2 linked regions of the Homo sapiens genome follow. The protein of the gene in region 2 purifies or fractionates together with the protein of the main gene of each other region. This does not show direct contact. Each region holds a gene or a part of one and is shown on either strand. Other genes may lie near its edges.

Evidence for each region.
Region 1: the proteins of BRF1 (region 2) and ZNF649 purify together in Homo sapiens (affinity purification with mass spectrometry, with the first as the bait; one large-scale study listed by BioGRID). This does not show direct contact.

What each region holds. Positions count from the first base shown.
Region 1 is NC_000019.10:51,888,735-51,892,197, forward strand, and holds the end of ZNF649 (zinc finger protein 649), read right to left. Parts: intron 3,164-3,463; coding exon 1,884-3,163; 3' UTR 501-1,883; downstream 1-500. UniProt on the Homo sapiens protein: Transcriptional repressor. Regulator of transcriptional factor complexes and may suppress SRE and AP-1 transcription activities mediated by growth factor signaling pathways.
Region 2 is NC_000014.9:105,224,247-105,228,067, reverse strand, and holds part of BRF1 (transcription factor IIIB 90 kDa subunit), read left to right. Parts: intron 1-925; exon of another isoform or gene 926-1,079; intron 1,080-1,307; coding exon 1,308-1,434; intron 1,435-1,777; coding exon 1,778-1,817; intron 1,818-1,906; coding exon 1,907-1,999; intron 2,000-3,821.

The sequences.
Region 1 (3,463 bases), on a different chromosome or scaffold from region 2:
AACTCAGCTGATCAATTAACTGATGAATTCTAGCACCAAACCTGCTCCCTATAATTTTATAACCAGCCTCAGAGAACCTTTAAAGGGATTGATCATTCACTCATTTATCCAGCGAATGTTTATAAAATGCCTAATGTGTCAAACACTGTTGTGCGTGCTGGGAATACAACAGTTGGAAATTCAGGCACAAAGACTCTCATTCATGGAGATTACATTCTACTGGCAATTTCAGTGTGTGAGCTAAATTGAGTGGTGCTAACTGTTGACTTGGCTGGTTGACTGAAACTTGGACTCAAAATTTGCCTACACTAAATGAAGTTTAAATGCCAGAAATTTCCTCATATATTATAAAGTACCCAAAGATAAATGGAGTTTGGAATGCTAGAATGAATTTATCATGTAAAATCAAGATTACCCATACCTCAAATATGTATTCCAGTAGCATCTAGAAGACAATCTCTTCACTGACACTGATCTGGTCACAGGAAATAGAGATATACTACTGTAAGATTATTTTATTATACAGTAAGTGATATAATGTCCTTGAAGTTAGAATGATAAGTTCATGATTTTCTTTCAGTCAGTTCAGGCTACTAGAAAAAATACACCATAGACTGACTGACTGCCTTAACAAACATTCATTTCTCACGTTCCAGAGGCTGAGGAGTCTCTAGAACTGGACTCTAAAACACAATCAAGGTGTTGGCAGGTCTAGTGTCCAGTGAGAGTCCATTTCCTGGTTTATGCATGGTCATCTCATTCTGTCTTCACATGGCAAAGAGCAGAGAAAGAGAAAACAAACTCTCTTCTGTGTTGTCTCATAAGACACATAATCTCATCATGAGGGTTCCACTTTCAAGATGTAATTACCTTCCAAAGGTCACACTTCCTAATGCCATCCCTTAGGGATTAGGACTTCAACATGTAAATTTGGAGAGGACATAAATATGCAATCCCTCACAATGATGTATGCTATAAAATCTCAAGGAATCAAATGACAAGGATTTACAGTTAATAAGCCAACAAAGGAGACAATATGTAATATAAACACACTCAGCTACTCTAAGGGAAAGCAGAAAAAGAAGAAAAGGAGAACAAAGAAGACATAGAATAAACAACAAATAGTAAGTTAGTAATTTAAACCTAAAAACATCAATACATTGAACGTAAATGATCTAAATACCCCAGTAAAAAGACAGAGATTGTTAACTGGATAAAAAAGGAAGGCCCAACTGTATGTTGCCCACTAAACACCCACTTTAAATATGAAAGCATAAATAGGTTAAAAGTAAAACCATGATAAATAAAGATATGAAAGATATAACAGGGAAAAACCCATGTCAAATTATTAGAGGTTAAAAATTACAATTTCTGAGAGAAAACATACTTTGGATGGGATTAATGACAGATTAAACACTGTGGAAAAAAGATTAGTGAACTGAAAGACATAGCTATGAGAACTATAAAAAATGAAATAATGAAGGGTAAAATAATAAAAAGCATGAACATCATTTTCATGTACATATGTGTATACACAAAAAGATTTGTGAACTTGAACAAGGCAAGAGATACAATCTAAACTACAAAGAGAACAAAAGCTAACCCCTACCTTGGCCCCCGGAGTAAGAGATATCATTCTGAGGAACACCAAGTGGAAGCCTCTAAAACTGCCCCCCTCCCCAGCCAAACTCTATGATCAAGATAGTAAATGAAAAACAATATTGTGGGAGGGGTAGTGAGGTTTATAAGATATAAAAAAGTAAAATATATTTCATATCTTGTAAACCCTACTATACATATTAGTGCAGGGAGCCAAAGGCCCATGGGACATGACAAACTCAGCATTCCGCTGGAGGCTATATGATCAAACAGCAAACTGTTTATCATGAATGCAGGATGTGGGCAAACTCACACTGCCCTGCCACCATTGCCACAGTTACCATATTAACAGGGCTTTTCCCCTGCACATGTTCACTAGGACTTAAGCTGTGACTTGCTGTGGAAGGATTTTCCACCTTCACTGAATCCCCCCGTTTCTCCCTTGAGTGTATTCTCTTATGTTTAACAAGGCAAGACATATAGAAGTAAGCTTTCTCACACTCATCACAGCCATAGGGTCTCTCTCCCGTGTGAGTTCTGTGATGTACAATGAGCATTGTCTTTGTAAGGAAGGCTTTCCCACAGTCACTGCATTTATAGGGTTTCTCTCCTGAGTGAATTTTCTGATGTCTAATGAGTCCTGACTTCTGTGAACAGGGTTGCCCACATTCAGGACATACAAAGGGAGTCTTTCCTGTATGATATCTCTGATGTGCTACAAGGCAAGACTTCTGGCTGAAGGCCTTGCCACAGTCAATGCATCCATAAGGTTTCTCTCCAGTGTGAGTTCGTTGATGTATGTTGAGATTGCCCTTCTGAATGAAGCCTTTTCCACATTCACTGCATGTATGAGGCTTCTCTCCTGTATGAGTTCGCTGATGTACAACGAGTAGTGATTTTCTGGAGAAAGCTCTCCCACATTCGCTGCATTGATGGGGCTTAATTCCCGTGTGAATCCTTTGATGTTCAGTAAGCTCAGATTTCCTGGGGAAGGCTTTCCCACATTCACTGCACCCGTATGGTTTCTCTCCTTTGTGAGCTCTCTCGTGTTCAGTGAGCCTGTACCTCTTGTAGAAGGCTTTCCCACACAAGCTACACCCGTGGGGTTTCTCTCCTCTGTGAGCTCTCTCGTGTTCAGTGAGCCTGTACTTCTTGTAGAAGGCTTTCCCACACAAGCTACACACGTGGGGTTTCTTTCCTGTATGAATTCTCTTATGCTCAGTGAGCTGAGACTTCTTGAGGAAAGCTTTCCCACAGTCAGTGCATTCATGGGCTTTCTCTATGTTGTGTGTTTGCTGATGTTTAAGGAATTGTGACTTGGTGCTGATGGGTTTTCTACTTTCAGGGAATTCAATTTCCGTAGGCATTTGTTCATGATTATCATGGAGAAAAGCTCCATCTCCATTAAACTCAGCAGGCTCCTTTCTGTTGTATCTTCTGCTCTGGTTGGTTAAACCTAAATATGATTTCAAAGTTCTTCCGTGTTCATAGCGTTGTCCCGTCCTCTTCAGTATTTTTTGGTTTTGCAAGGGCTGCTGCAGATGATCATCAGCTTTCTCAATTTCTAAGAGAGAGAACAATAAATCCTTCCATGATCATCACACGGAATAAAACTGCTTCAAAGATGCCTTGGGGTTGGCTGGCTTTTTACTGGAACCCCTATAATACCAACATGGAAGGAATTCCAAGTATAAGTGTTCCCTATCTGTTAAAAAAACTTTTAAGAATTGTAGTTAAATACATATAAGATAAAATTTGCCAGCTGGGTGCGGTGGCTTATGCCTGTAATCCCAGCACTTTGAGAGGCCAAGGCGGGTGGATCACAAGGTCAAGAGATCAAGACCATCCTGGCCAACATGGTGAA
Region 2 (3,821 bases):
AGCCAGGCAGGCAGGGGTGGGGCTTTGCACCCCGGCTTTGCTGGGTGGTATTTGTCGGGGTTCCTCACAGCTCGCCTGCACCGCAGCCCTGTTTCATAGACTTTGACAAGGTAAATGTGACAGTGGAGTTGCTGCCACCTGTAACTGCTGTGACATTTATCACAAATCTTAAACACAGGACTGCTGTTTTTCAGCTGAGATTGTGTCCTGTGGCATTTTCCAAAACCAGCTGTAAAGTATTTCACTTTAAACATCTGACCATTGATTCTGTAAAAAAAATCTTTGATGAAACGTGTTTGAAGGTTGTGTAGCGTGTAGAGGCGTTCGTAAGAACTGAGCCCCATGGCTCACAGGCCTGCAGGGCCCCTTCCTGCCCGACTGCCAGGTGCTGAGGTTCTAGCCCAGCCTCCTCTCTTCAGGCCTTCTGAGTCTTCCGCCTAGGATTGGGGTTCTCTTGTGAGGGATGAGGGTGCCTGTGGGCCTTTCTCCTAGTGAGCAGAGGTCCGGGCAGGATCGGGTAGGGGTGGAGAAGCCGCCAGAAGGGACCTGGGCGCCGAGGGGCAAGGCCTGAGTGCCAGGCCCCGTGGAGGAACATCCGACAAGCACAGTTCAGGTATTTGTTTTTATTGTTATTTATTCATTTTTTTGACACAGATTTTCGCTCTTGCCGCCCAGGCTGGAGTACAGTGGCACGATCTTGGCTCACTGCAAGCTCCGCCTCCTGGATTCAAGCGATTCTCCGGCCTCAGCCTCCCGAGTAGCCGAGATTACAGGCTCCCACCACCATGCCCAGCTAATTTTTGTTATTTTTAATAGAGATGGGGTTTCACCGTGTTGGCCTGGCTGGTCTCAAACTCCTGACCTCAGGTGATCCTACCACTTCGGCCTCCCACATGCTGGGATTACAGGCATGAGCCACAGCACCTGGCCTTTTATTTTTTATGTATTTTTTGAGACAAAATCTCACTCTGCTGCCCAGGCTGGAGGCCAGTGGCGCTATCACAGCTCGTTACAGCCTCAACCTCCTGGGCTCAAGCGATTCTCCCTGACCTCAGCCTCCCAAGTAGCAGAAACTACAGGTGTGTACCACCATGCGTGGCTAATTTTTTTTTTTTTTTTTGGGTAGAGACAGAGTCTCACTGTGTTGCCTAGGCTGGTCTCAAAGTCTTGGACTCAAGCAATCCACCCACCTTGGGCTCCCAAAGCACTGGGATCACAGGCATGAGCCACGCCCAGGCGAAAGCTCAGTTTTAAACAGCTGGTTTCAGAGCCACCAGCTCCATTTCCCATGTCTGGCTCCATTTTAGGCTCACGGAATTTGAAGACACCCCCACCAGTCAGTTGACCATTGATGAGTTCATGAAGATCGACCTGGAGGAGGAGTGCGACCCCCCCTCGTACACAGCTGGGCAGAGGAAGCTGCGGATGAAGCAGGTAGCGCCGGCTTTGGTGTCTGTCTGTGCTGGGCTTGCCAGCCTTGGGGGGAAGCCACACACCCCGACTGGGGTTGTAGCAGAGCTGGTGCCATCCCAAAGCCTCATAGCCGCTCTTCAGTGCTATGACCAGCCAGAGCCCGAGGCTCCGGGATGCCCCTCACACAGACTCTGGGAAGTGCCACCTCTTCCCATGGGGGACACAGGCCCATAGCTCCACCTCCATCGCTGCGTACCCCTAAGTTCTAGCAGCCTGTGGTCCCTGGGGCCCACGCGGCACCCCAGAGGCTGCGCTGTGCACCAGGGCCTCCCTTCACGAAGCCTCTTGCCCTGTTCCCTTTCAGCTTGAACAAGTCCTGTCAAAAAAACTGGAGGAGGTTGAAGGTAACCAACCAATCTTCCCATGTAATGCTTCTGTTTTGTTGGGAAAATTGATTTTATGCTGACTTTTTGCTTTTAACTTATGACTTCAGGTGAAATATCCAGTTACCAGGATGCAATTGAGATTGAACTAGAAAACAGCCGGCCAAAGGCCAAGGGGGGCCTGGCCAGCCTGGCAAAAGATGGTGAGTCCACTGTGCCCGGCCCCTATTCAGACCTTTAAAATGTGCTAGAGTCTCAGCAGATCTCTTCAGGATCAGAAAAAGACCTGGAAAGGGAAGGGGATTATCTACAGAATGTAAGTTTACCACCGGGCAGGGTGGCTCACGCCTGTAATCCCAGCACTTTAGGAGGCTGAGGCAGGCGGATCACGAGGTCAGGAGATGGAGACCATCCTGGCCAACATGGTGAAACCCTGTCTCTACTACAAATGCAAAAATTAGCTGGGCGTGGTGGTGCGCACCTGTAGTCCCAGCTCCATGGGAGGCTGAGGCAGGATAATCATTTGAACCTGGGAAGTGGAGGTAGCAGTGAGCCAAGATCGCACCACGGCACTCCAGCCTGGGTGACAGAGCGAGACTCCGTCTCAAACAAAAAAAAAAAGAATGTAAGTTTCCCCTACAAAAGACAGCTTTGCGGGGCCATTTCAAAATATGTCAAAGATATTTTGGGGTAAAATATTTTTATTTCTTTCAGGGCCTGCTACCTGTCATTGATGTTGTACTAGAGTCAGGTTGGAATTTGGTATCTGTTGCTACAAAGTCTGGTCAATCATCAGATCTGTGTTTTGATGTTAATGCTGATGAGCTGTGCCTGAACTCCAAAGGGAGGGGGTATAAGCGGGTATAATGAGGCGTGTCTGACCCCGCCCCCACTTCCCATCATGGTCTGAACTAGCTTTTCAGGTTTCTTTGAAATCTCCTTGGCCAAGAGAAGGGATCCATTTGGTTGGTTGTGGGGCTTAGAATCTTGTTTTTGATTTGTATTCTGTACTGTGTATTTTCACTTGGGGGTTAGTAGGAGCCACGGGAGGGCCTGAGAACAGAGGCAGGAGGTAGGGAGGCTGTTGCAGGAACCCAGGGTGAGAGACCTGGCCCAGCCTGGTCGAACTCTGGAAGTACTTTTGGGGCAGAGCCAACAGTCCAGGGAATGTGCATGTCCCGGGAATGTGGCAGCCGGAGCCCCCAAGGCTCCTGGCACCTGCGGCCTGGGCCCACTTGCCCGGGGAGGGGCTTCTGAGAGGCTGCTCTGTCCAGAGGTCATCGTCCACTGACAGCTGCTCTCTGGGGATCAGGTGCTTTCCCCCAAGGAGCCATTCCTCACCATGGGGACCCCTCCGGGACTCAGTGCTAGCCAGGAATCTTGTATTGGAACACATTCAGAAGAAAGCAGTCTAAGACTAGGGAGTGGGTCAAGCATGGTGGTTCATGCCTGTAATCGCAGCACTTTGGGAGGCAAATACAGGAGGACTGCTTGAGCAGAGTTCAAGACCAGCCTGGTCAGCATAGTGAGACCCCATCTCTACAAAAAATAAAAAAATTAGCTGGGCATGGGAGTGTGCACCTGTAGTCCCAGCTCCTCGGGAGGCTGAGGCCGGAGGATCACTTGAACCCAGGAGTTCGATGTGCAGTGAGCTATGATTGCACCACTGTATTCCAGCCTGGGCAGCAGAGCCAGACCCTGTCCCCAGTATACACACACACAAAATCCAGAGTGGGATGTTTTAAGATGAGTTTTGCCAACCTTAAAGGAAGAAGCAGAGGCAAAAGTAATCTACATAATTTATTTGGGTCAAGCTTGAGGATTGCAGCCAGGGTGGACATATCCCATTGCCTTGAATATACACTCTGGTGAGCAGCAGTTACACATGGACTTTTTCTTTTTTTGGAGACAGGCTCACTCTGTCACCCAGGCTGGAGTGCAGTTGCATAATCTCAGCTCACCACAACCTCTACCCTGTAGTTTGAAGCAATTCTCCTGCCTCACCCTCCTGAGTAGTTGGGACTA